4 linked regions of the Homo sapiens genome follow. The protein of the gene in region 1 binds, or shares a complex with, the protein of each later gene. Each region holds a gene or a part of one and is shown in the gene's direction. Other genes may lie near its edges.

Evidence for each region.
Region 2: SGF29 (region 1) and KAT2A share a complex: the UniProt entries of both Homo sapiens proteins name them as parts of the ADA2A-containing complex.
Region 3: SGF29 (region 1) and YEATS2 share a complex: the UniProt entries of both Homo sapiens proteins name them as parts of the ADA2A-containing complex.
Region 4: SGF29 (region 1) and KAT14 share a complex: the UniProt entries of both Homo sapiens proteins name them as parts of the ADA2A-containing complex.

The regions. Positions count from the first base shown.
Region 1 is NC_000016.10:28,577,897-28,584,919, forward strand, and holds part of SGF29 (SAGA-associated factor 29), read left to right. Parts: intron 1-3,158; 5' UTR 3,159-3,173; coding exon 3,174-3,248; intron 3,249-7,016; coding exon 7,017-7,023. UniProt on the Homo sapiens protein: Chromatin reader component of some histone acetyltransferase (HAT) SAGA-type complexes like the TFTC-HAT, ATAC or STAGA complexes.
Region 2 is NC_000017.11:42,118,345-42,125,927, reverse strand, and holds the start of KAT2A (histone acetyltransferase KAT2A), read left to right. Parts: upstream 1-4,560; 5' UTR 4,561-4,623; coding exon 4,624-4,962; intron 4,963-5,098; coding exon 5,099-5,222; intron 5,223-5,557; coding exon 5,558-5,703; intron 5,704-5,808; coding exon 5,809-5,898; intron 5,899-6,209; coding exon 6,210-6,391; intron 6,392-6,491; coding exon 6,492-6,683; intron 6,684-6,686; exon of another isoform or gene 6,687-6,874; intron 6,875-7,524; coding exon 7,525-7,583. Other genes in the region: RAB5C (ras-related protein Rab-5C), read left to right, coding at 30-145; HSPB9 (heat shock protein beta-9), read right to left, coding at 2,598-3,077. UniProt on the Homo sapiens protein: Protein lysine acyltransferase that can act as a acetyltransferase, glutaryltransferase, succinyltransferase or malonyltransferase, depending on the context.
Region 3 is NC_000003.12:183,749,792-183,756,814, forward strand, and holds part of YEATS2 (YEATS domain-containing protein 2), read left to right. Parts: intron 1-2,281; coding exon 2,282-2,462; intron 2,463-4,331; coding exon of another isoform or gene 4,332-4,334; coding exon 4,335-4,574; intron 4,575-6,736; coding exon 6,737-6,898; intron 6,899-7,023. UniProt on the Homo sapiens protein: Chromatin reader component of the ATAC complex, a complex with histone acetyltransferase activity on histones H3 and H4. YEATS2 specifically recognizes and binds histone H3 crotonylated at 'Lys-27' (H3K27cr).
Region 4 is NC_000020.11:18,161,854-18,168,876, forward strand, and holds part of KAT14 (cysteine-rich protein 2-binding protein), read left to right. Parts: coding exon 1-386; intron 387-523; coding exon 524-1,092; intron 1,093-7,023. UniProt on the Homo sapiens protein: Component of the ATAC complex, a complex with histone acetyltransferase activity on histones H3 and H4. May function as a scaffold for the ATAC complex to promote ATAC complex stability. Has also weak histone acetyltransferase activity toward histone H4.

The DNA.
Region 1 (7,023 bases):
TTGTCTTGACACCCTTGTTGAAAATTAGTCGACCATTTCTGGTTTCTCAGTTCTATTCCATTGAACTAGATGTCTTTGCTTACAACATCTTGATTACTGTAGCTTTCTTTTTTTAAAGTTAAAAAATTTATAAAGTAGAAGTGGGGCTCAGGCTCGTCTGGTGGCCTAGGCTCGTCTGGACCCCTGGCTGCAAGTGATCCTCCCGCCTCAGCCTCCCAAAGTGCTGGGATTACAGGCGTGAGCCTCTGGGGCCTGGCCACAATTGAGTTTTGTTTATTGATCTCGTATCCTGCAACTTTGCTATGAGTTCTAACCTTGTCTTAGTCCTAATAGTTGTTTAATGGATTCCTTAGGGTTTTCTATATACAAGGTCATGTCATCTGCAAATAGAAATAGTTGTACTTCTTCCTTTCCAATGTGGATGCCTTTTATTTCATCTTATTGCCTCATTGCCCTGGCGAGAGCCTCCAGAACAATGTTGACTAGAAATGACAAGGGCCCATGCTCATCTTGTTCCTGACTTAGGGGAAAGCTTTTAATCTTTCGCCTTTAAGTCTGATGTTCGTTGTGGGTTTTTCATAGATGCCCTTCATCAGGTTGAGGAGGTTACCCTCTATTCCTAGTTTGTATGTTATTATACTTTTAAATAGCAGCAGCAGAGCATGTAAGAAGATATGAATAAATACATGGCGAGAGGTTCGCAGTTGATTAAGTGGGGGGAAGAGTTTACTCCATTCATCGTGAATCTGATCTCTGTGAGTAGGAGGATGTGTTAGTTGAACAACTTTAAAAAAAAAAAAAAAAAAGAGGGCGAGGTGGGTGGATCACGAGGTCAGGAGTTTGAGACCAGCCTGGCCAAGATGGTGAAACCCCGTCTCTACTAAAAATACAAAAAATTAGCCAGGCAAGGTGGCGGGTGCCTGTAATCCCAGCTACTCTGGAGGCTGAGGCAGGTGAATCGCTTGAACCCAGGATGCCGAGGTTGCAGTGAGCAGAGATCGCACCGCTGCACTCTAGCCTGGGCGACAGAGCAAGACTCTATCTCAAAAAATAAATAAATAAAAAATAAAAATAGAGACAGGGTCTTGCTGTATTGTCCAGGCTGATCTCGAGCTCCTGGACTCAAACCATCCTCCTACCTTCGCCTCCCAAAGTGCTGGGATTACAGGTGTTAGTCACTGCCCCCAGCTTGAACAAACTTTGTAAGATGCAGGCTATTGTGCAAAATTTTAGCACTGTAAAAAATATCCCCTTATTTTATCAAATATACCTTTATCTTGAGGCATATGTCTATTTTCACCTACTTGTAACTTACACTCTTGATTACTTTTGGTTGTCTTTTTACTCTTGTTCTAATTATCTTTTTTTTTTTTTTTTTTTGAGACGGAGTCTCACTCTGTCGCCAGGCTGGAGTGCAGTGGCGTGATCTCGGCGCACTGCAACCTCCATCTCCCGGGTTCAAGCAATTCTCCTGCCTCAGCTTCCTGAGTAGCTGGGACTACAGGTGCCCACCACCATGCCCAGCTAATTTTTGTATTTTTAGTAGAGACAAGGTTTCACCATGTTGGCCAGGATGGTCTTGATCTCTTGACCTCATGATCTGCCCTCCTCGGCCTCCCAAAGTGCTGGGATTACAGGCATGAGCCACCACGCCCGGCCCTAATTATCTTTTATTGTACAGAAGCATTTTATTTTCATCAGAGTACATTCATCTTGATTGAGATATTTTACAGTAGTTTCTCTCCCCATGCTGGCTGGGCGTGGTGGCTCACGCCTGTAATCCCAGCACTGTGGGAGACTGAAGCAAGCAGATCACCTGAGGTCAGGAGTTTGAGACCAGCCTGGCCAACATGGTGAAACCCCATCTCTACTAAAAATACAAAAATTAGCTGGACATGGTGGCACACACCTGTAATCTCAGCTACTCAGGAGGCTGAGGCAGGAGAATTGCTTGAACCTGGGAGGCAGAGATTGCAGTGAGCCAAGATCACACCACTGCACTCCAGCCTAGGTGACAGGGCAAGACTCCCGTCTCAAAAAAAAAAAAATTATCTTCCCACTATAGTAAGAAAGTAACAGCGTTTTATGACTTGGAAAGTGTCTTCATATAAAATCTTATTTGAATCTCCCAAAATATAGCAGAGATGATCCCCATTTTACAGATTAAAATATGGATACCAGAAATGTTTGAATCATTTGTCAGGATATTGGCAGCAGAGCAGGGGCTAAGGGCATGCTATCTTTTTAAGGCACTTCATATTAATTTTTGTATTTATATACAAAAATTATACACTCCTTGACTCCTTGACTTCGTCGAACATATGACATTCAAACATATCAATAGGGTGGAGGAGAATCCAAGGATAGCTTGCCACTGTATTCATTTCTTATGGCTGCCATAACAAGTTACTGCAAGCTGGGTGGCTTAAGACAAGAGAAATTTATTCCATCACAGTTCTAGGGGCCATAATTCCAAAATCAAGATGTCAGCTTGGTTCCAAAGACAAGGGATTGTTGCTTCTTGGAGGCTTAGACGGGGCCGTTACTCCGCGCATCTCTCCCGGCTGGATGGGTGGCTGCCGGCAGTCCTTGGCATCCCCTGGCTTGCAGCTGTCCAAGTCCAGTCGCTGCTTCTGTCTGCACCTGGCTGTGTGTCTGGATTAAGGGCACACCCTATTCCACTATGACTTCATCTTAGTGACATCTTAAATACTTCTCCAAAGACCCTAATTCCAAACAAGGTGACATTACAGGTACCATGGTTAGGACTACAATGTATCTTTTTATTATTACTATCTTTTAAAGGGATAGGGTGTCACACTGTCATGTAGGCTGGAGTGCAATGGCACGATCGTAGCTCATGCAGCCTCAACCCCCTAGGGCCTAGCGATCCACTCACCTTAGCTTCTCGAATAGCTGGGACTACAGATGTGTGCCACTATGCCGGGCTAAGTTTTTAATTTTTTTGTAAAGACGGGGTCTCCGTGTTGCCCAGGCTGGTCTTGAACTCCTGGCCTCAAGCAATCCTCCCGCCTTGGCCTCCCAAAGTGCTGGGATTACAGCATGAGCCTCCAGGCCTAATGTATCTTTTGAGGGGGCACAGTTCAGCCCACAGCAGCCACTAACAGAGTTCTCTTCTGTCCTCGCTCCCCCACCAGGTGCCCCTGTAGACAATGGCCCTCGTGTCTGCCGATTCCCGCATTGCAGAACTTCTCACAGAGCTCCATCAGCTGATCAAACAAACCCAGGTAAAAAGTCACCACCCTCCATTCCCAGATGGGAACATGGGCTTTGATGCTGAGCCGTGAAGTGGGGGTGGCATTTGTGTTCAGAGAGATTGGACTCGCAGGAACCAAAATGACGTAATAAAAGTGAAAGGAGGGGAATTTGGTGTATGGCTACCATTCCTGTTGGATTTTCTACCATGTACAGGATTTCATGATTCATTTTGTTTGACAGCTATCCTGAGATAGAATTCACATGCCATACAACGCACCCATTTAAAGTGTATAATCCAGTGGTTTTTCGCAGCTCACAAAATTGTGCAACCATTAGCACGATCAATTTCAGAACATTTTTAACACCCAACAAAAATGCCCCATATCTTTTCCTTCCACCCTATTAATCCAGGCAAACAAAAACACTCTTTTTTTTTTGGAGACGGAGTCTCACTGTGTCACCTAGGCTGGAGTGCGGTGGCGCGATCTCAGCTCACTGCAACCTCTGCCTCCTGGGTTCAAGCGATTCTTCTGCCTCAGTCTCCCTAGTAGCTGGGATTACAGGCACACACCACCATGTCCGGCTAATTGTTTTTGTATTTTTAGTAGAGACGGGGTTTTGCCATGTTGGCTGTCTCTACTAAAAATACAAAAATTAGCTAGGCTTGGTGGCGGATGCCTATAATCCCAGCTACTGGGGAGGCTGAGGCAGGAGAATCACTTGAACTCGGGAGGCAGAGGTTGCAGTGAGCCGAGATGGCGCCACTGCACTCCAGCCTGGGTGACAAAGCAAGACTCCATCTCAAAAAAAAAAAAAGCCATTTTTCCCCTATTTGATATCTTTTCTTTCACAGATACAAGGGAGATGCGTATTGGTGCCTGTAGCTCACTGCAGGCTATCGGGCATGCTCTGCCACATTTTGCCCACGATACTCAGGGTTTATAGCTACACAAGGATCAGTTTGCTGGCAGTTGTGCACCGCACAGCCAGGAAGGAGTAGATCCCAGAAATTCCTTCCCAAATGGTATTCCTTTTAGACGTAACCTGGAGAGTAAGAGTCAGAAGATGCCGGCACTCATTGCTAAGTGAAAGATGCCAGTCTGAAAGGTTACGTGCTGTGTATTCCAACTGTAAACGAAAAGCAAAACTAGAGAGTGAAAGGATGAGCGGTAGCCAGGGCCTTGGGAGAGATAGGATGAAAGGGATGGATAGGTGGAGCACAGAGGATTTTAGGGGGTGGAACTCTTCTGCAGGGTACCATGATGGGGGGCACGCAACATGATGCGTTGTCCAAACCCATAGAACGGCAGAACACACAGAGTAAACCATCATGGGGATGGATGTAGTTAATTATCTAACAGTATTGGCTCATCAGTTGTTACAAACGCACCACTCTAATGCAAGATGTTAACAATAGGGGAGACTGCGCAGGGCAGAGCAGGTATACATACAGGAACTCTGTGCCATCAGCTCAGCTTTTCTGTAAACCAAAACTGCTCTAAGAAGAGTTTATCAATAAAATACATTGTAAAATAAAGGAAAAAAGGGCTGGGCGTGGTAACTCATGCCTGTAATCCCAGCATGTTGGGAGGCTGAGGCGGGTGGATCACCTGAGGTCAGGAGTTTGAGACCAGTCTGGCCAAATGGCGAAACTCCATCTCTACTAAAAATTAGCCGGGCGTGGTGGTACATGCTTGTAATCCCAGCTACTAGGGAGGCTGAGGCAGGAGAATCGCTTGAACCTGGGAAGTGGAGGTTGCAGTGAGCCAAGATCGCACCACTGCACTCCAGCCTGGGCGACAAGAGCGAAACTCCGTCTCAAAAAAATAAATAAAGGAAAAAAAAGATACAGGCAGATTACGCATTCCATTCAGTCATCCACAGTTAGAACAGTTTATCATCATCCCATACAACCAGGGTGTCCCTCAGACAGCTGCTGCCGAGTTCCCAGACTCCCATCTCACCCGTCAGCTTCCAAAAGCAGGCGTGGTCCTGACAGACACAGGGCTTCGCCCTTTCAGGCACCCAGTGTAACTGACCTAAGAGATGGCATTCTCTCTCTCTCAGCCTCTCTTGAGGTATGAGTACAATATTGGATTTCCCTCATTGCATAACCCATTTAATTTGTTCTGTTAACTCGGCTACTGTTTCTCCTCTCCATTTGTGATTGGTTTTCACCCAAACTTTTCCACCTTTGTAAGGGATGTTAGCTTTGGCCACTGTACCTGGTCCAGATTGCAGCGGCAGCAGTACTAGTCTAGCAAGTATCCCCCCCCAACCCCAATCCATTCCCATTTATATAGGGTGGGGTTACACAGGTATGGACTATTGGCTGTCTTGAGCACTAGGCAGCTAGCTAGCTGTGTTCACTGTTAACCTCATTTTGCAGGTTGAGGTAAAGGCGCAACCCACCCATCAGGCACTTAAAAATTCTCACATAAAGGCTAAAAAGCATAGTCATAATTTCTTTCTTAGGATCTGTCTCAGTTTCCAGCATCTGCAGTTGCAGCTCTGCTCCCAGGATGACTGATATGGGAGGAATTGCACCAGCATTCTTCCCCACCCCTTCTTCTCCACATCAATTGATCATACCTGTATGTGTCTATTTCTGGACTCTGAATTCTGTTCTGTTGATCTATATGCCAGTACCACACCATCGTGATTACCGTAGCTTCGTAATAAATTTTGAAATTGGGAAGTATGAGTTCTCCAACTTTTTTTTTCTTTTTCCAAGATTGGGGATAATCTGGGTCCCGTGAATTTCCATATGAATTTTAGGATGAACTTGTCAATTTCTGCAAAGAAGTCAATTAGAATTTTGATGGGGATTGCGTTGACTGTATAGATTGATTTGTCTCTTTGATAAAGGACTATCATTAAAGATATCACTTATGATTTAACTTTAATGCCTTCTTTTTTTTTTTTTTTTAACAGTCTCACTCTGTCACCCAGGCTGGAGTGCAGTGACATGATCTCAGCTCACTGCAACCTCAGCCTCCCGAGTAGCTAGGACTATACGCACATGCTACAATGCCCGGCTAATTTTTGTATTTTTAGTAGAGGTGGGGTTTCATCATGTTGGCCAGGCTGGTCTTGAACTCCTGATCTCAAGTGATCTGCCCACTTTGGCCTTCCAAAGTGCTGGGATTACAGGCTTAAGCCACTGCACCAGGCCCTTTAAGGCCTTTTATAATGCTTTTGCATTAGTCAAAGGAGAAAATCATCTTGAACTCCTGAATTTGGATTTAGAAAATGAGGGCCATAGCCGGGCGCCCTTGCCTGTAATTCCAGCACTTTGGGAAACCGAGGCAGGTGGATCACGAGGTCAGGAGTTCAAGACCAGCCTGGCCAAGATGGCGAAACCCTGTCTCTACTAAAAATACAAAAAATTAGGCCGGGCGCATTGGCTTACGCCTGTAATCCCAGCACTTTGGGAGGCCGAGGCAGGCGGATCACGAGGTCAGGAGATCGAGACCATCCTGGCTAAGACGGTGAAACTCCGTCTCTTCTAAAACTACAAAAAATTAACCAGGCGTGGTGGCGGGCGCCTGTAGTCCCAGCTACTCGGGAGGCTGAGGCAGGAGAAAGGCGTGAACCCGGGAGGCGGAGCTTGCAGTGAGCCGAGATCGTGCCACTACACTCCAGCCTGGGCGACAGAGTGAGACTCCATCTCAAAAAAAAAAAAAAAAAAAGAAAATGAGGGCCGTATTTTGGGGATGGGGACTCTGGCCTGGCTGGCAGGGTACCACAGCAGCACAAAGGGCCACCGTCATGTCCTGCTGCTCTTTTCCTTACAGGAAGAGC
Region 2 (7,583 bases), on another chromosome or scaffold:
ACAAATGCACTTTTCCCCCTCCCAAACAGCTAAGAAGCTTCCCAAGAACGAGCCCCAGAATGCAACTGGTGCTCCAGGCCGAAACCGAGGTGTGGACCTCCAGGAGAACAACCCAGCCAGCCGGAGCCAGTGCTGCAGCAACTGAGCCCCCCTTGCCTGCCCGCTGCCCCCGCCTCCTCCGCCTGAATGACCCGACTGGAATCCACTCTAACCAATCGCACTTAACGACTCGGGCCACCACTGGGGGGGCAGGGGGAGGGGTCCACCATGATTTCTCCATATAATTTTGATCATAGGCCGGAGTGAGTCATTCCACCTGCACCTTTCTGTACAAATACTAATTCAATTTTAAGTCTTAAGTCACTTTTTTAATATATATGATCTTCTGCTCTTCCCACTTCCTCCCCTTTCTACTGCTCTCCCATTTTCCCTTGCTGGGAGTAGCCACATGCTCTTGCCCCCCAACCCTTGTATATGGGGACAGTGGGGTCAGTGCAGCTACCCTTTCTTTCCCTCCTGCGGAACAGCGGACCCAGCAAGAGCATCCACATCCTCACTTTGTTCGGAGTGGTCTTTGGTTTGGGCGGTGGGGCAGACCTTGGGAAGGGGCTTAGGAAGGGAGAGGCAGCTCTTCCTTCAGCTGGCTCTCATCAGGCTGCAGCCCCCTCCCCGCTCCCACCTCCCTGCTGGGAAACCACAGCATTATCACAGCATTATTGTGACAGCCACGAACCCATTGCCCACAACCCCTCCACCCTCGGTCACCCCAACCTCTGGCTCTGAGCCCTGTTCTGACCAAATCATGATGATGAGTATTTGGGGGTGGGTGGGTAAGGGGGGGAGTGGGAGGGGACGGAACCAACTTTTTCTGTATTTTGTATTGTATGTTTTCTTCAACATGTAACCAATCAGTATCTTGTCAATATAGTCAGCCGATCGATCGACCTCACAATTGTCTTCCTTGTCTTTCTCTGGCAGTTTATCAGACAGTGCCCTCTGTAGTTGAAGTTGATTTAAAATGAACCACTGAATCTTGTTAAACAAAATCTTCCCCTCTAATGTGAGGGGATGCTGGTGGTCATGGTAACCAAGAGAAAGAGGCTCTTACTGTTAGCAGCTCCGATGAGGTAGCTGACCTGGGCTGACCAAGTTTGAAGTTTCAGGGCCCGTGTTCACTTCTCCACCTCCCTTCCCCTCCCCCACCTACCAGATCATACTGGGGTGACATGCAGTGTGTATTTGATGATCATTAGTCTCTGAAACACCAGAAACAACCTCTTTGGGTTTTTTTTGGTTGGTCTTTACCAGTGAGAGGGTCTGGATCCTCTCTCTTCCTGAAGAGGAAGGAATCCCAACAGCCCCTGGAACGCTGGACTGGTCTTAAGGCCAAGACTGTAGCCACTGGCTTTCCTCACCACCTCTGTCCACGTCACCCCCCCACACCACATCCAAGTTGCCCCAGTCCAGCTCTCTACTGGTTCTGGAATCAGGTCTGGGCACTCAGCTCTCTGCTGCTACCTGTTGGAGCTGCTGCTCAGCTAGGGCCACACTCTCCTCCAATTTCTCCCAGGGCCACAGAGGCCTGATTCCCTTTTTTTTTTTTTTTCTTTTTTTGAGACGGAGTCTCTGTTACCCAGGCTGGAGTGCAGTGGTGCTATCTCAACTCACTGCAGCCTCCACCTCCTGGGTTCAAGCGATTCTTCTGCCTTAGCCTCCCAAGTAGCTGGAATTACGGGCACCCGCCACCACGCCCTGCTAATTTTTGTATTTTTAGTAGAGACAGGGTTTCACCATGTTGGCCAGGCTTGTCTCAAACTCCTGGCCTCAAGTGATCCACCCGCCTCAGCCTCCCAAAGTGCTGGGATTACAGGCGTGAGCTACCACAGTCGGCTTTTTTTTTTTTTTTTTTTTTTTTTTTTTGAAACGGAGTCTCACTCTATTGCCCAGGCTGGAGTGCAGTGGCACGATCTCGGCTCACTGCAAGCTCTGCCTCCCGGGTTCACGCCATTCTCCTGCCTCAGCCTCCCGAGTAGCTGGGACTACGGGCGCCCACCACCACGCCCGGCTAATTTTTTTGTATTTTTAGTAGAGACGGGGTTTTACCGTGTTAGCCAGGATGGTCTCGATCTCCTGACCTTGTGATTCGCCCGCCTCGGCCTCCCAAAGTGCTGGGATTACAGGCGTGAGCCACCGCGCCCAGCATTTTTTTTTTTTTTTTTTTTTTTTTTTTTTGAGACAGAGTCTCACTCTGTGGCCCAGGCTGGAGTGCAGTGGCAGGATCTTGGCTCACTGCAACCTCCCTCCACCTCCCAGGTTCAAACGATTCTCTTGCTCAGCCTCCCGAGCAGCTGGGATTACAAGCACACACCACCACGCCTAATTTTTGTGTTTTTAGTAGAGATGGGGTTTCACCATGTTGGCCAGGCTGGTCTCGAACTCCTGGCCTCAAGTGATCTGCCCGCAGAGGCCTGATTCTTGGTGGACCACCACCTTGAGGGTGCCTTTCCTGCCTCCTGTGCCTCCAGTCCCTCTACCTCTGACTTCCATCCCCAGAAAAGACAACGGACACCAAGGCTGCTGCACATCGCGTCGTTTGTTTACCGGGTCAGGTTGGAAGCCTTAGAGCCGAGGCTCCCGAGTCTCGGGGACGGTCCTGTTTGGGCTTCAGGGAGGGCCAGCGCCACACACTGGCCTCTGACCCACAGCTGCCCGGAGGGGGTCAGGCAGCAGGTCATGGCGGTAGGACTCAGGTTGGACGGGAGCATTTTCCGGTGCACCTTCTGTGACATGCGGTAACTGACCCTTTCCGGGTCCCTGACGTCCAGTTGCTGCTGTCCGGTCACCATCAGCCATTGGCCATCCACCTGCACCACCAGTTCCTCCGGGGCGAAGCCGTGGGCATCCAGCTTCATTTGGAAACCGTCTCTGGCATGGTCATTGTCCTCCTGAGCCGCTGGACTGTCCCTGAGCAGCCGCACCGGCATTGTGGCCACCCGGTTCCGTTCAGCAAGGCCCACGCTGGGACACCGGGATGCCACCCGGCTCTCGTTGGAGAAGGTGTTACCGACTCTCTGCATCCGAGTCAGCAACTAACTGCTGTCAAAGGGCGCGAGGCTCCCAGCGCAGAGCTAGGCGCACGGACGCCCGGAGAGGAGGGACCTCGCGCGGCCTACCCGAGCTCAGCTCCGCTCGCTCGGTTCCCTTCGCTTCTGCAAACGCAGGCGGAGTTCGGGATCAGCCACGCCCATCTTACCTCCAAGAGCCAGACTGTCAGCGCCCTGGCGCGCCCGCAGCTGCTCTCCTCCCAGACTCCGACCCTTTCTCCGCCCTTCCCCACCTTCGTTAATGGACCCGGGGAGGCCGCAGCTGTGAAGGAACTGGATCCACGACCAGGCCAGACCCGAGGGAGCCGCACCCTGGCGCAGCCAACAGCAGATTGATCCCCCAGCTGGAAGGGGGCTGTCTTGCCTTCTAAGGACCAGGCCTGGGGCAAGGATTGTTCCTAGACAGAGCCAGGGGAGGGCGGCCTTCCTGGGTCATCCACCCTACCTCTCCCTGACCACCCACAACCCCACGCGGACACGCGACACGAGGAGGTGGACTGGTCTCTCCGGCTGCATTAATTCTTCCCGGGGCGTCCTGTGCTGCAGGCTGTGGTCTGGGCTCTGGGGCCACAAAGATGAAGACGCAGTTGGGGCTTCAGGAGAGTGGCTCCCAGTGCACAGAGAAAGACCTAGCCCTCCTCCGCCTCACCCTCCACGTCAGTAGCCTTCTTGGTGACCATCATAACCACAGCTATGCCTCTGGTGCTGTTATTTGATAATTTTTTTTTTTTAAGAGACAGGGTATCATTATGTTGCCCAGGTTAATCTCGAACTCCTGGGCTCAAGCGATCCTCCCATCTCGGCCTCCCAAAGTGCTGAGATTACAGGCGTGAGCCACCTCGCCCAGCCTATAAACTTTATTTTTTATTTTTTTGTAGAGATTGGTGGGGGGGGTCTCCCAATGTTGCCCAGCCTGGTCTCGAACTCCTGCAGGGCTCAAGCTCTCCTCCCGCGTGAGCCAGCCACCCGGCCTGATAAACTCCTTTTTGTTGAGTGATACTATTAAATACATACATACTGAAAAGCGCAGAAAAAGGTGCAGGTGAATGTCAGGAGGAGAACACACCCAAGTCACCACCACACTACTGCAGAACTGTTGCTACATCTCATCTCTACCGCAGCTGCAATTCCGTGTCCGGAGCCGCGTGGGGCAGGGCCTGTGCGGGAGTTGGGGGAGGGGGTTAAGTGGGAGACAGGCGCGTGAAAGAGGCAGACCCCACGATTCTCCCCAAGACTCCTTGTCCCCAAGAGGACAGCCATCGTGACTCTCCCGGACTCCATTAAAAGAGATTACAAGTGAAGAGGGGTCAATGTGGGGCCTTCACTCAGGCCTCACTTGGCTGTCAGGGGCCAAGAGACAGGACAGAAAAGTCTGGAAGCTGGAGGCAGTGAGGGGAAGGCGCGGGAAGACTACAACTCCCGTCATGCGCCGCGCAGCAACGCCTGCGCACTGAGCGCTGGTTGCCCATGCGGCCCTAGGGCTGGGAGCGCGGCGCCGCTCTCCGCTGCGGGGGAGGCCATGGCGGAACCTTCCCAGGCCCCGACCCCGGCCCCGGCTGCGCAGCCCCGGCCCCTTCAGTCCCCAGCCCCTGCCCCAACTCCGACTCCTGCACCCAGCCCGGCTTCAGCCCCGATTCCGACTCCCACCCCGGCACCAGCCCCTGCCCCAGCTGCAGCCCCAGCCGGCAGCACAGGGACTGGGGGGCCCGGGGTAGGAAGTGGGGGGGCCGGGAGCGGGGGGGATCCGGCTCGACCTGGCCTGAGCCAGCAGCAGCGCGCCAGTCAGAGGAAGGCGCAAGTCCGGGGGCTGCCGCGCGCCAAGAAGCTTGAGAAGCTAGGGGTCTTCTCGGCTTGCAAGGTGGGGGCGGGGCCTGGGGTGAAGGGGCGGGGCTTGGGGCATCCCAGGGCTCTGGTGGGAATGGGGTCAAAGCTCTGGCTGCGGAGCGGCTCTTGCCCCAGAGGTATAGGTCATTGACTGATCCTTCCACCTCCAGGCCAATGAAACCTGTAAGTGTAATGGCTGGAAAAACCCCAAGCCCCCCACTGCACCCCGCATGGATCTGCAGCAGCCAGCTGCCAACCTGAGTGAGCTGTGCCGCAGTTGTGAGCACCCCTTGGGTAAGGCAGGCAGCGCCCTTGGAGCTGGGGGCAGGTGCTGGGTCCTGCTTGGACAGGGTGACAAGTGCCACAAAGCTTCATCTCTGAAAAAATCAAAGATGCCTCGAAGGAGGGATTGGGTTGGGGGGGGGTGTGCACCAAGGGGGGAGAAAGGAAATCTCTCAGCCCAGAACAGGCCCAGGCAACCCAACGGTTGATATCGGAGCAGTCAGTCTCACTGTTGGTCACACTGGTTGGAGGAACAGAGTGTGTATCTTGCTTGGCTGTGAAGAGGGTCAAGAAGCCTTGTTGATTTCTTCTATCAATTTTTCCTAACTCTGCCATCTGTCTTGCAGCTGACCACGTATCCCACTTGGAGAATGTGTCAGAGGATGAGATAAACCGACTGCTGGGGATGGTGGTGGATGTGGAGAATCTCTTCATGTCTGTTCACAAGGAAGAGGACACAGACACCAAGCAGGTCTATTTCTACCTCTTCAAGGTGAGCTTCCACTAAAGGAGGGTGTGAGTGAAGGAGGTGGGGCCTTGAGGGGTTGTCTGCAGCTCTGCCCCCCTCCCCTCTATGCCCCCTTCCTCTTCTCTCTAGCTACTGCGGAAATGCATCCTGCAGATGACCCGGCCTGTGGTGGAGGGGTCCCTGGGCAGCCCTCCATTTGAGAAACCTAATATTGAGCAGGTGAGATAGGGGAATTGGAGATAGCGGATAGGAGAATTGGGGACAGCTTGGAGGAGTGGGGAGCCTGTGTTCTCCATTCTCCTCAAGCTGAGAACACTGGGGAGGTTCAGAGAAGGAAGGGTGTTTTGTGCTAACCTCAGGGTGGGCATGGTGGTAGGGAGGGGGCAGAGCTTTTCTATAGAGAGCACCCGAGAGAGAGAGGAGAAGGAGAACCTTGTCCCTGGCCAGGGAGCATCTTCCTTTGTCTAAGAAGGCCCTGCGGGCTGCTCACACCTCATTCCTGGTTTTATCCCCCACCCACCCCTTCTCAGGGTGTGCTGAACTTTGTGCAGTACAAGTTTAGTCACCTGGCTCCCCGGGAGCGGCAGACGATGTTCGAGCTCTCAAAGATGTTCTTGCTCTGCCTTAACTACTGGAAGCTTGAGACACCTGCCCAGTTTCGGCAGAGGTCTCAGGCTGAGGACGTGGCTACCTACAAGGTCAATTACACCAGGTAGGCCCAGCCAGGGGCAGCTTCGGGGGAGGCTTGCAGGCCCAGCCTGGGTTCAGTGGTTTCCGCCCTCACCTGTCTCCCCCTCGACCCCCTACTCCAGATGGCTCTGTTACTGCCACGTGCCCCAGAGCTGTGATAGCCTCCCCCGCTACGAAACCACTCATGTCTTTGGGCGAAGCCTTCTCCGGTCCATTTTCACCGTTACCCGCCGGCAGCTGCTGGAAAAGTTCCGAGTGGAGAAGGACAAATTGGTGCCCGAGAAGAGGACCCTCATCCTCACTCACTTCCCCAAGTAAGGCTCCTTCTGGCCTACCAGGATTTGGCCCCAAGTTCACATCCTCCCTGTTGTCCCCTTTTTTCCAGGAAGGCTTCCTGGATTGGTCCCTCCTCTCCCTCCATGGGCCTTTTGGGATCTGGGCGTCTACCTGGCAGACTTGCCCATGGCCCAGAAGCAACTTGCTAGTACTAGTCTGGGGATGGCAGGTACATAGCCCAAGCTAACGCTGCCCCCACCCGACCCTACGCCCCAGTAGATGTTACTAATTGTTTCCCATGGGGGCCTGGACACAGCCTCAGACTCCTTCCCTGCACAACTCTCCAAGAAACCAGACCTTAAGCTTGAAGTGAAACCAATTTCTACTCCTGTTCTGGTCTTTTCTGTACCATTTTCTTCTGTTCGGCCACACCTTTTAAAATCTAGGCCATAACTCCCCTGTTCAAAAAACCCTGACTGACTAATCCTGGCTCTCTAGTGCCCCCTGCCATCAGGTGGGAACAAGAGATGGCAAGGTGGGGTGGAGTCTGAGCCCATTTTGATACTGAGGGCAGTGAGGGGGCTCAGGGTGACAAGGTGCCCTGCCTGGCCACACAGCACAGGATGACATCAGCTCAGACCTGTCTCCCTGTGCCACACAGCGTGGTGAAACTGAGCCTGTTTGATCTCTGTCCTGGATGTGTCCTGTCCTCTTACCTTCAATTGGAGGCTCCCAGAAGACAGGGGCTGTCCCCTCTCTCAGGTCCCCAGTTCCCTAAGAGCAGGGTCTGTCTCTGACCAGCCTCCAGTCCCTCTGCTGCCTGGCCCAGGCTGCACCCTGGAGAACAGAGTTGTGGGACAGACTGTGTCCTCCCTACAGATTCCTGTCCATGCTGGAGGAGGAGATCTATGGGGCAAACTCTCCAATCTGGGAGTCAG
Region 3 (7,023 bases), on another chromosome or scaffold:
AGCTAATTTATTTACTTACTCGTTTATTTATTTATTTATTTTTTGAGATGGAGTCTCGCTCTGTTGCCCAGGTTGGAGTGCAGTGGCTCGATCTCGGCTCACTGCAAGCTCCACCTCCCGGGTTCACGCCATTCTCCTGCCTCAGCCTCCTGAGTAGCTGGGACTACAGGCACCTGCCACCACGCCCGGCTAATTTTTTTTTTTTTGTATTTTTAGTAGAGACGGGGTTTCACTGTGTTAGCCAGGATGGTCTTGATCTCCTGACCTCATGATCTGCCTGCCTCGGCCTCCCAAAGTGCTGGGATTATAGGCATGAGCCACCGCGCCCGGCCTACTTGTTTATTTTTTGTAGAGACAGGGTCTCACTATGTTGTCCAGGCTTGTCTTCAACTCCTGGGCTCAAGCTGTCCGCCTGCCTTGGCCCCCCAAAGTGTTGGGATTATAGGCATGAGCCATTGTGCCCCGCCCCTCTTCCTGTTTTAGGCTGAATAATACTGCATTGTATGTATATACCACATTTTGTTTATCCGTTCACCTGCTGATGGACACTTGCGTTGCTTCCAGCTTTTGGCTGTTGTTAATAGTGCTGCTATGAACGTAGGTGTACAGGTATCTATTCAAATCCTTGCTTTCAGTTCTTTTGGGTATATACCCAGAAATGGAATTGGCTGGATCCTATGGTAATTCTATTTTTAGAGGAACCACTGCTATATTTTTTCGTGGTAGCCGCACCATTTTACATTCCCACCAACAGTGCACACGTATTCCAGTTTCTCCACGTCTTCACCAGCATTTGTTAATTTTTTTTGTATTTTAATTTATAGTAGTTATTCTGTTGTTTGTGATGTGATATCTTGTGGTTTTGATCTGTGTTTCTCTAATCATTAGTGATGTTGAGGATCCCTTCATGTGTTTGGTGACCATGTGTTTATCTTCTTTGGAGAAATGTCTATTCAGAGACATTCAGAAAATGTCTTTGCCCATTTTTAAATTAGGTGGTTTGGTTTTTGTTGTTGCTAAGTGACAGGAGTTATTCATATATTCTGGATAGTAACCCCTTACCAGATAGATGATTTGCAAATATTTACTTCCATTCCGTGTTATATTTTTGCCTTTTCACTCTGTTGATTGTGTCCTTTGATGCACAGAAGTTTTTAAGTTTGATGTCCCGTTTGTCTATTTTTTATTTTGTTGCCTGTGCTTTTGGTGTCGTGTCCAAGAAACCATTACCAAATTCAGTGTCATGAAGCTTTTCCCTTACATTTTCTTCTAGGAGTTTTATTGTTTTAGCTTTTATGTTTCGTTCTTTGATCCTGAGTTAATTTTGGTATATAGTGTAAGGTAAGGGTCCGATTGCATTCTTTGGCATATGGATATCCAGTTTCCCTGGCACCATTTGCTGAAAATACTGTCTTTTCCCCCACTGAATGGTCTTGGGACCCTTGTCAAAGATCATTTGACCATATATGTGAGGATTTATTCTGTTCCATTGGTCTGTATGTCTGTCTTTATGCCAGCAGCATACTGTTGATTACTATGGCTTTGTAATAAATTTTGAAATCAGGAGTCTGAGACCTCCAACTTTGTTCTTCACCTTCTCTCCCTTTTTTTGTATTCATCATATAATAATCAGCAATAGCCATTTAATCAGAGTTCACTAATTAAATCTTACTCTGTCTAGAGAAATCTGCTGTATTATATCAGAAGGTACTTATTGAGCGCTGGTCCAGGTGCTGGGAATACAGAAATGAACACGGTAGCTTCTTCCTTCAGAGTCAAATTCTTAGTGGCATTGAAAATGGGGAGGGTAGACAGTAAACACAAAAGCAAATAAAATTACTTCAGTTACAAATAAGTGCTGTGAAGATAAGAGTAGCTGGGGGATAAGGAAGTAGCTTATTCTTGGGTGGTTAGGCATGGTCTCTCTGAGAAGGTGCTACTTCATTGAGACCTGCTGGTGAGAAAGGCAGCCATGCAAAGATTTGGAGGAATAGCGTTGTAAGGAGTAGCAACAGCAAAATCAAGAGGTCCCAATTTTGTGAATAATTTCACTGAGATTTGTATGTTAAACCAGATTAGATTTTCACTGAGGTATGTGTCTGTTAAGCCAGATTAGATTACCTTCTAGAATAAATCCTTTAGTTCTTCAGATTGAAATTGCCTTTGAAGTGTGATTAGAAGTTATCTCTCACATCCCGGAGATTACATTCTTGGACGGGACTTGAGCTTTCTGTGACATTGATGATGGACTCATGAGCCTGATTGTTGCCCAATTGTCTAGGTAGTGGATGTTGAACTCCATCGCCATTCTCTCGGAGAAGACTGTATCTATCCTCAGTCCTCGGAGTCTGACATCTCTGATGCCCCTCCATCTTTGCCTTTGACCATTCCAGCCCCAGTGAAAGCTTCTTCACCAATAAAGCAGTCACATGAGCCAGTACCCGATACCTCTGTGGAGAAAGGTAATACAGCAGTTTTCCTTGCATAGCGTTGTTCTGAGGCATTCCTTTCCCATTTGCTGCTTTCAGAGACCTATAGTATATGGAAAATAACTTTGCTATAAGTGGACATGCTGCCTCTACTACACAGTTCTGTTATGAAAGCCAAATTTCCACTCTTGTCAAAAATATTTTTCCGGCCGGGAGCTGTGGTTCACACCTGTAATCCCAGCACTTTGGGAGGCCAAGGCGGGTGGATCATGAGGTCAGGAGATTAAGACCATCCTGACTAACACGGTGAAACCCCGTCTCTACTAAAAATACAAAAATTTAGCTGGGTGTGATGGTGGGTGCCTGTAGTCCCAGCTACTCGGGAGGCTGAGGCAGGAGAATGGCTCGAACCCGGGAGGTGGAGCTTGCAGTGAGCTGAGATGGTACCACTGCACTCCAGCCTGGACAACAGAGCGAGACTCCATCTCAAAAAAAAAAAAAAAAATTTCCATGAAGTTTTACTGACATATTATAAAATGTAAAAATAGCTAAAAAACATAAGATTTTTAAATTTATTTTTATTTTATTTTATTTTGAGATGGAGTCTTGCTCTGTTGCCCAGGCTGGAGTGCAGTGGCATGATCTCGCCTCACTGCAACCTCCACCTCCTGGGTTCAAGCAATTCTCCTGCCTCAGCCTCCCTGTTAGCTAGGATTACAGGCGTCCACCACCGCTCTCGGCTAATTTTTGTATTTTTAGTAGAGATGGGTTTTCACCATGTTGGCCAGGCTGGTCTCGAACTCATGACCTCAGGTGATCCACCCACCTTGGCCTCCCAAAGTGCTGGGATTACAGGCATGACCCACCACGCCTGGCCTAAAACAGATTTTTATCACTTGATAATTCCTTATAATGTATTACAGGAAGACTTTATGGTTCAGCTTCTGATTGTGCGAGCAAGAAACTTGGATATTAAATACCTGGTTTTACTTAAGAAAAGATTCATCACCAACAATGTATTTTGACCATGCCATTTTTAAATTTAACAAATATATGTGTATAAATACATATTTTAATGTTCCCATATATAAGCATAAAAGATATAAAATTGATCTTAAATGTTTTATTTCTAAGCCTATATTTTAATGTGGTTAGTATTATAGTTCTTTTATAAAATCTCAACTTTATTCCTCTTTAGATTTCAATTGCATCTTTTTTATGGGCATTTAATAAGATACAAGAGGGGCCGGGCACGGTGGCTCATGCCTGTAATTCCCAGCCTTTTGGGAGGCTGAAACCATCGGATCACCTGAGGTCAGGAGTTCAAGACCAGCCTGGCCAACATGGCAAAACCCCGTCTCTACTAAAAATACAAAAATTAGCCAGGGATGGTGGTGCATACCTGTAATCCCAGCTATTCCGGAGGCTGAGGCACAAGAATTGCTTGAACCCGGGAGGTGGAGGTAGCAGTGAGCTGAGATCACACCACTGCACTCTAGCCTGGGTGACAAGTGAAATAATGTCTCAAAAATAAGTAAATAAATAAGATAGGAGGATATCATTAGATTTAGTGAATGCTTTCTAAGATTTTTTCTTCTCTAAACAGTTTTTCAGTTTATATATTAAAAAATGGAGGAACATAAGAACTTTTGTTCTTTTTATGTTATACATGGTTTATAGTTAATAATGTTTTCAAGTTTTTTTAAAAAAGCACTTTAAACATTATTCTAAGCATATATATTTTTCACCAAAAATATGAAGGGATGATTGATTGTATTTATTTTGCTACCAGTACATGGTTTAAAATGGTGTTGAAATAATGCATTTTTATTCTTTTTCCACAACGGTAAGGTTTTATTTCAAAGCGATTGATGACTTGCCGTTTGCCTCTTTCATCTCAAGCAGGATTCCCAGCTAGCACTGAAGCTGAACGACACACTCCGTTTTATGCTTTGCCATCTTCATTGGAAAGAACACCCACCAAAATGACTACATCCCAGAAAGTTACCTTTTGTTCCCATGGCAATTCAGCTTTCCAGCCAATAGCATCAAGCTGCAAAATTGTTCCACAAAGTCAGGTTCCTAATCCTGAGTCACCTGGAAAATCCTTCCAGCCCATCACCATGAGCTGCAAGATTGTGTCAGGTATGCAGATGTTTTGAAGACAGTGTATGTGGAGTTGACTGGATGTTAAAATTGTTGGAACAACAAAACAAAATACTTGGCTTTTTTTCTCTTAAGTTCTTCTAAGCAGTGTTATGTTTAACAAAAGGAAGTTTATCACTGTTGATTGGCAAAGCTGTCACAAGGCAAAAACAAAGCTCATTCATACGGAAATGAATGGAGGAGATAAATGAAACTCAAATGGTCAAATTTTTGTCTGCCAGAATCAGCACAGGTAAAATGTTTGCTAGGATATATGGCTGAAACTAAGGTGTAGGAATCGTGTTTGGGGATTATATACATGGAAACCACAGTGACTAGTGATAGAAAAAATTTAGAGGCCTTTGGCATGGAGTTAAATTTTAAGGGTTAGAGTTGGTTGGGAATTGAAATGCTTTATTCTGTCTGTAACCACACTAGAAAATTATTCATTCCTATTGTCAGTAGGTAGTTCTGAGTTGTCTTGTTCACTAAGATTGGATTATCTTTTGCCTTGTGATAGTTTCATTTTATGTTAGGTAAAATTTAGTAGGAATATATGGTTTTGACTGTTCCACCTTAGAACAAAACATGTTTGTTAAAAGGCAATTGGAAATAACCAGGAAGTATGAGGACTTCTGTATAATAGTTAAATGAAGGGGGGAAAAAAAGAATGTTTGGTGTTGTAAGTAGACAGCTAAGTAGAAATAGGATCCAAATCTTTGATGAGAGATAAATAGCTTCTAATTGGTAGGCAATTTTTTTTTTTTGAGATGGAGTTTCACTCTTGTCACCTACGCTGGAGTGCAATGGCGCGATCTCAGCTCACTGCAGCCTCCACCTCTCTCGGGTTCAAGTGATTCTCCTGGCTCAGCCTCCCAAGTAGCTGGGACTGCAGGCACGTGTCACCACTCCCAGCTAATTTTGTATTTTTAGTAGAGACGGAGTTTCACCATATTGGCCAGGCTGGTCTTGAACTCCTGACCTCAGGTGATCCACCTACCTTGGCCTCCCAAAGTGCTCCGGTTACAGGCGTGAGCCACCGTCCCCTGTCATTGGTAGGCAATTTTACCTACCAGGTAGAAAAATTTTGGAACTTGCTACTTCAGAGGTGGAATAGGCTGAACATATAAATTGATTTGAAGTTTAAAGAAATTCATGGATGACGTTTGATCAATAAAAGACAGTAGAGGATGTTTAACTGTCAGTAACTTTTGAGAGTATTTTGCGGGAACACGAATCTTTCTGGGTTACGGCTGTGACATAGTATTGACAGAGACTTTTATTCTGGGTAGGTGAATTTCATATTTTCCTATTCAAAACAAGACACCAGGTTCTTAAATCTAGCTGTTTACTTACTGATTTTCTTCCTTCCTTTCTTTTTTTTTTTTTTTTTTTTTTTTTTTTTGAGACAGAGTTTTGCTCTTGTTGCCCAGGCTGGAGTGCAATGGCACGATCTCGGCTCACTCCGCCACCCGGGTTCAAGCGATTCTCCTGCCTCAGCCTCTCGAGGAGCTGGGATTACAGGCATGCGCCACCACACCCAGCTAATTTTGTATTTTTAGTAGAGACAGGGTTTCTCCATGTTGGTCAGGCTGGTCTCGAACTCACAACCTCAGGTGATCCGCCTGCCTCGGCCTCCCAAAGTGCTGGGATTACAGGCACGAGCCACTGCACCTGGTGTCTCATGCCCGGTCTCTAATTTTAGTGTCTTCGAGTATAACCAGTACTATAAAAGCCTGCCTATGGTGTTAAAAGATTTATCATATCAAGATTCAGCAGTTACAAAAAAAGGTTCAGCAGTTTTGCACTGCTGTGTAAAGCACTGCTTTCTGAACTATAAGGTGCATACCAGGAGATCTTGTTGAAGTGAGATTTATGTTTAGTAGGTCAAGGATGGGACCATAAAATCTGTTTCTTACAATTTCCTCGATGATACTGATGCTGTTGATCCATGGATAAGGATGCAGAGCATGAAACATACATCCTCTGCCTCCTTTGTACCTCTGTTGCTGCTCAGTACCGGGAGCACGCAGTATCCATTTTATTTTCCCAATTTGTTACCTTTGTCCTGGTGGCACTGACCTTCTTCCTTGTCCTCGACATCTTCTTACGTGAGTTGAATATGTGTATTTTGTTTGTATTCTCTCTTTTTAATTAATAAGGTTCCCCAATATCAACTCCAAGCCCATCACCATTGCCTCGAACCCCGACTTCCACTCCAGTCCACGTGAAGCAAGGCACTGCCGGCTCTGTTATTAATAATCCTTATGTTATCATGGACAAGCAGCCGGGGCAGGTGATTGGAGCCACCACTCCCAGTACAGGTGTGTATTAGATCCATATTTGTACCATCTAAAGGGTTTGATCTTTATTAAAAATGTAATCCTGCCATGACTTGGTAGCCATGTAATTGGAGAATGAAATCTCCCGTAAACGAGAAGCGAGAATA
Region 4 (7,023 bases), on another chromosome or scaffold:
TGTTGAGGGACTTAGAAAACGAGCAAGTCGGAATCCTGTGGAATCTGCCATGGAATTAAAAGAGAAAAGGTCTCGAACTCAGGAAGCAAAAGACATTAGAAGAGCCCAGAAGGAGGCCGCTGGCTTTCTTGACAGGAGCACATCTTCTACCCCTGTAAAATTCATAAGCCGAGGCCGCAGGCCAGATGTGATTCTGGAAAAAGGCGAAGTGATTGACTTTTCCTCCTTGAGCTCCTCTGACCGCACCCCGCTGACAAGCCCATCTCCTTCTCCTTCTCTGGATTTCTCTGCCCCTGGTACACCTGCCTCTCATTCTGCCACACCTAGCTTGCTTTCAGAAGCAGATCTGATTCCAGATGTGATGCCCCCACAAGCCTTGTTTCATGGTAAGAGTTTGTTTGCTTTGCTCTTTTATTTTGGGTATGGGCCATGGTATAAATGTACAAGTTTTCACCCCGTGGGCTGTGTGCTCTGCATTTCTTCCTTCCTATGTCTTGATGACACTGTTTTGTACTCTGCACAGATGACGATGAGATGGAAGGCGATGGAGTCATAGACCCAGGGATGGAGTACGTCCCACCCCCTGCTGGGTCAGTAGCTTCTGGGCCAGTGGTTGGGGTCAGAAAGAAGGTCAGAGGCCCTGAACAGATAAAGCAGGAGGTAGAGAGTGAGGAGGAAAAACCCGACAGGATGGATATTGACAGTGAAGACACAGATTCAAACACATCTTTGCAAACAAGGGCTAGAGAAAAGAGGAAGCCTCAGCTGGAGAAGGACACAAAGCCGAAAGAGCCCAGGTATACTCCCGTGAGCATCTACGAGGAAAAGCTGCTGCTCAAGAGGCTGGAAGCTTGTCCCGGTGCTGTTGCCATGACTCCGGAAGCTCGGAGACTGAAACGCAAACTGATTGTCAGACAAGCGAAAAGGGATAGGGGATTACCACTTTTTGACTTGGATCAAGTTGTTAATGCTGCTCTTTTGTTAGTTGACGGGATTTATGGAGCCAAAGAAGGAGGAATTTCCAGACTTCCAGCTGGACAAGCCACGTACAGAACCACCTGTCAGGACTTCAGAATCCTTGACCGATACCAGGTGAATGCAAGCACTTGCTGTAAAGCCCTTGGGGGCAGGAGTGGAGGTGGGGCAGGCAGCACTAGGCATTGGACATGGTTATGCTGTGACCTTTTAAATCCTGAGTAATTTGGGAAGAGAAAAGTAAAGTGCAAGGGAAAAAAATACAAAAATCGCTGGGCTTTATTTTTCAGAATTGTTCATTGTAAGTACACCTGAATACATCTGAGTTTTTCTTTTCCTTTAGGCATTCAAACATAACCTATAAGTTTTCTTCATCTGTCTCTCTTGTCTCTCTCTCTCTGAGGATAGATATGCATGGTTTGTGTCGTAGCTTTGACAAATTTGTTGAGGCCATGACGGTGTCTCTGACACTGTGTTGCAGAGGATCTGAAGGTGTGTAGACATCTGCGAAGGACAACATGAAGAAATAGCAGCCAAGGGATCAGTGTGGTATCAGTGTTGCTCAAAGGATGGTCGGTGGAACCCAAATTTTGTGGATGCTTCTGGGAACAATTAATTCCACTTAGAACTACCTGTATATACTCTCCCACTGGGAGGAACAAGAGGCCTTATTCCCTTTATCTTTGCTAGCACTTGACACTAACCAGCCTTTAAGTTTTGCTAATTGGCTGGCTGTAAAGTGAAATCTTGTTTTTTATTTATATTTCTTTGGTTACAGGTGAGGTTAAATTTCCTGGTTGTTTCTTTGTGAATTGCCTGTTTGGAGTCTGCATGTTTTTCTCTCTTCTCTGGAAGCTAGTGGGATCTGCTCTTCATTGCTGGTGTTCTGGTATTATTCAGTGATGTGCCGTATGTAGGGCTTATGTCTTTCCTTGTGCTGGACATGTGGTGTGTGGGCCCTTTCAATTTGAAACTTTCTTTCCTGAGTATGGAAAAGTCTTGATTTCCTATCTTCTATTTTTTCTGTTCTCTCATTTTAGAACTCCCCATTATTTGGATATTGGACCCTGTAGATTAAAAGTTGGCAAACTTTATCTGTAAAGAAATAAGTATTTCTGCCAGATAGTAATTATTTTAGGCTTTGCCGGCCACAAAATCTCATTCGGAACTCTTCAACTCTGCTGTTGTGATTGGAGAGCCGTAGTGAATGAGTGTGGCTGTGTTCCAGTAAAACTTTATCTACTAAAATGGGCAGTGGACTGGATTTAGCCTGGGGGCTATAGTTTACCAAGATCCCTACTCCAGATAGATCCTCTTTTCTTTTTTTTCCTAATTCCCATCTTTCCTGGGAAGCACAGTATTAACTGGCCTGCCTACCAGGAGCCAAGTCGGGAGGGCCCAGGAGCCCATCGTTTAGGAGGTAAACTGACTCTCCCTGTCTTCAGTACAGTACTCCCACCCTTGGCTTCCTGTGTCCAGAATCTCCCTCTTGAGCCTCTCCAGTCTTCTGCCCGTGGAGGGAAAGATCATTTCCTAGATGTGGGCAGTATAATTACTATAGGGGTATAATTGGAGCCTTTAACCTCTTAAAGAGCCTCACAATCCATAGTCATACCCCCCAGGCTCTAAGCCTGATGCCTTAGGTGACTACACTTCCCTGAGGCTGTGTTTTGTAAATCACCCTGCTTAGCTTCACCACTGGCTTAGGTATTGGCTTTCTTTGGTCTGTTAAGTCATTTGCTGCTTGTTCATATGCTTTTGTTAGTCATCTATTCACTTGTTCTTGTTCTTTTTTTTTTTTTTTTTGAGACATGGTCTCTCTCTGTCACGCAGGTTGGAATGTAGTGGCACAACCACAGCTCATTGCAGCCCCGAACTCTCAGGCTCAAGCAATTCTCCCACCTCAGCTTCCCAAGTAGCTGGTACTATAGGCACACACTACCACACTCAGCTAATTTTTTTTTTAATTTTTATTTTTAGTAGAGACAGGGTCCTACTATCTTGCCCAGACTGATCTCAAACTCCTGGGCTCGAGTGATCGCCTCAGCCTCCCAAAGTGCTGGGATTACAGGCATGAGCCATTGCGCCTGGCCAATATTCACCTGTTCTTTGTTCTTATTCTTGTGGGCCTGTCTGTTTACTGCCTATACTTAATTTTTTAAATTGTAAGATGTGTCATACAGATAGAAGGCAGCATAGAAATATGGTATAATTTAGATATTAGTAAAATAAATGCCCATGTATTCATCTCCTGGATAAAGAGTGTTGTAAACACCTTAGAAGTCTCCTGTGTACTTTCTGTTCCCCTCAGAGGAAGCCACTTTGACTTACAGTGTTAATTATTCTTTTGCTTTTTAAATGTGTATGTCTCTAAATGATATACTTTTCGTTTAAAAAAATACTGAGTAGCAAGCATAAATCTAGCTGTGTAAGTAAATTGCCACTATTAGATGAAGTTTCCTGGAGAAGATAAGCTAAATAGTCATTCTGGGTCATTGTTGTGGACTGAATTGTGTCCCCCTTAAGCATATGTTGAAGTCCCAACCCTGGTACCTATGAATGCAGCCTTATCTGGAAATAGGCCCTTTGCAAATATAATTAGCCAAGACCACCAAGGATTGCCGGCAGCACCAGGAGCTAAGAGAAGGGCACAGAACAAATTCTCCCCTAGTGCGTACCCCAGAGAGCATAGCCCTGCCCACACTGTGACTTCTGACATTTGGCCTCTAGAACTGTGAGACAATAAATTCCTGTTGTTTTAAGCCACCCAGTTTGTGGTGCTTTGTTCCTACAGCCCTGGGAAACTAATACTTACAGTGATGTTCTGGCTTCGGCTTCCATGAACCCCTTCTGAGGTAGTCACTGGCCAAGGTCACTAGGGAGTCCTGGGAAACATGAGGCTCACCATAGCGTATGCATCAGCCAGGGCTGTGATGTATACCAGAGATGCGGCAGAAATCTGGGCAGAGGAAGTGGGATCCTCTGTATTTCCTGCCTGAGCTGACAGCTTCCTTCCAGCTTGCAGAAGGTCAAAGCAGTTATTTGTGGAGTGAGCATCATCAGCTGGTCTTTGGGGTGGGCATGGGTGGTGTACAGGAGGCTCACCTGTACATGGTGAAGACAAGCTGAGCGTAGATAAGATTCTGGGCCACGACGCCATAGGTTTAAAAGATGGTCAGTGGCAGCAAGGACTTAAGGATGATAGCCTCAATATGTGTTAGAAATACCAAAATTGTTAGAAATAGATAATCGGTGCTGCGAAGAAAAGTCAGCACAGAGACAAAAGGTATCTCAGCAAGGCCATCTTTTCTTTCTGTAGAAAGGGTGCTCAGTTGCAGATGGAACAAAGGTGAGAGCACACTTGAACACAGGAAAAGCAGACATATTTATCCCTTACGCACTTGGGTCGTCCTTACTGCTGTGTCCTGCATCCACTGGCTGGAGCGGGACCTCACAATCTTAAACTGATACCCGATTTGCTAATAGCCTAAAACTTTCCTAAATAGGTAAGTGCAGGGAAGAACAAAGAAGTTGCTTACAAAAGGTTTAAGGAAGCAATAACATTTCCAAATAAGGAAGGGGCGTAGACTGTGGGCTGGAACGTGCCTGTGAGCATGTCCAACGGTTACAGAGGATAGGGCTTAACAAAGAGTTATTAGCACAAGGCAAGGAGACTTGAAGAAAGTTAGTCTTTAAAAGAAACTGTTATTTCTAACACTTATGATTTATTCTTTAACAAGAAGGAAAACTTTGAAGAGGAAACTTTTTACTTTCTACACTATGTCTGCCCCTTGGGTCACACTTGTTCACCCTTTGTTGTGAAACTCAGCAGGGGTGTTGGGATCTCCCCTCTCTGGAGATTCTTTTGCCCTCCTCTGTATTTGATCTCCTGTTTCCTGTGGCCCATCTTTACCTTGTTATAGGTTTATTCCCTTGTTCTTAATGACTTCCTGAGAAAAGCTGCATGGGAAGTAAAATTTGAGACCAACATACTGAAAAGACCCTCATTAAGTGAGGTTGAACCTGGAATTCCATACACAGCCACATTGTCTAGGTGAGACCTCTGTTGAGGACCACTGCACTTCCTTTAGGTTTTTTCTTTGAATCTAGTCAGAGTCCCTGGGGAATAATCTTCTGGGCTCAGGATGCTGGTTGCCAAGTTGGGGAAGAGGGACCTTAGCATTCAGCTTGTCAGGTACTCACACCTCAGCCCTCCAGCTGGATCCCCTGTTAGTTCTCTAGAGATCAGACCTCCTGGCTTCTGGGGGAGGGCAGCCACCCAGCAACAGGGAGTGGAAGGATCTGGGGATCATACTGCTTTCCACATGGTGTTTGCCTGCTCCTTATTTTATTGTCCCATTTGGTCCCAGTTCCAGAGGAATCTGCTGGCTGCTGCCTGGATTTTAGCGGGTTCTGTAGTATAGATTGGGTTAGTTCTCATTTAGCTTACCCAAAGCCACTTTGGGATTTTGGTGTTAAATCAGTTACTATTTGTCCATCTGTTTACCAGTTACTGTTCTAATTAAGTCAGCTTCTATAGTTTTAGTGGGATTTTGGGAAGTAGTAAAGCTTTATATGCTTGTGTTTTAACCCAGTCTTAACTTGGAATTTTAGTATAAATTTTAATGTATTTACACAGGGAGTGGCTGTAAATGCATTTATTCAATCCATACTCTTGTTTTATATTTATTCTTTGAATGTATTCGTAGCTATAAGTTTCTCAATAAGTGCTGCTTTAGCTGTGATTCTTGACTTTTGAAATGATGTGATTTTATTTCCAATCAGTACTTGGCATTTTGTTATTTTTCTCATTATTTCCTCTTTAATCCAAAGGTTATTTAGTTGTTTTTTGGTTTTCAGATATATGAGAATTTTAAGCTATGTTTTGGTAATTGATGTGATTTCTAATGTTGTATTATGATCAGAGAAAATAGTTTATGTGATGTTCATTCTGTACCATAAAGAAAGTTATACATTCTATTTTTATTCTTTTTATAGGTCCTAACTTAAGATACATTTATTTTTCCTTATTCTTTTTTTAATATCATGTGGTTGTCCCCCCAAACAAAAAAGTACATTTTCATGCACTTATCTCTTTTTTTCTTTTGTATTGCTTATTTAAATGACATAAATCTTTACTAAATTATTCACTCGTCCTATTGTTTCTTTCTAGATTAATTTCTTGCTGGACTGCTTTCTCTAACAGTTCTTTAAAAATATGGGCTTTTTGAGGTTAATTTTGAAAACTTATACGACTAAGAATATCTTCATTTCACTTTTTCATTTAAATGATAGCAGTCATATAAAATTGTTATTTTAGTTTTTTCCATTGATATTTTGAAATTATGACTTCATTATCATCTTACATACAGTGTCACTCCTGAGAACCCCGGTACTGATAAGAAATAGAAATTTTTGACTGGGCTCAGTGGCTCATGCCTGTAATCCCAGCACTTTGGGAGGTCGAGGCAGGCAGATCACTTGAGGCCAGGAATTTGAGACCAGCCTGGACAATATGGTGAAACCCCGTCTCTACTAAAAATAAAAAAATTAGCCAGGCCTGGTGGCGCATGCCTATAATCCCAGCTGCTTGGGAGGCTGAGGCTTGAGAATCACTTGAACCAGAGAGGCAGAGGTTACAGTGAGCTGAGATCATGCCACTGCACTCCAGCGTGGGTGATTGGGTGAGACTCTCTCTCAAAAAAAAAAAATTTTTTTTGTTTCTTATCAATTAAGTGGCCTCCTTGTTTTATTCTCCCATCTCCTAAAACTTTCAGAATTTTCTCTTTGTTTTTTATCTTTAATTAGTGCATGTTAAGTGTCTTTTATTTTCTCTTTTTAAAGCTTTGTTTTCTTTTTTCTATTATTTTATTTTCCAGCACATCCAAAACACAGAAATTGTGTTTGTTCTCATTTGTCTTACTTGACAACTCTGTTCTTTTGGTCAGAGGTATTTTATATGCTTCTTGGCATTTATTCTGCTTGGTGTTCGCTGACCTTCCTGAATGTGTGGTTTGGTGTCTGACATTAAATTGGGGATATTCTCAG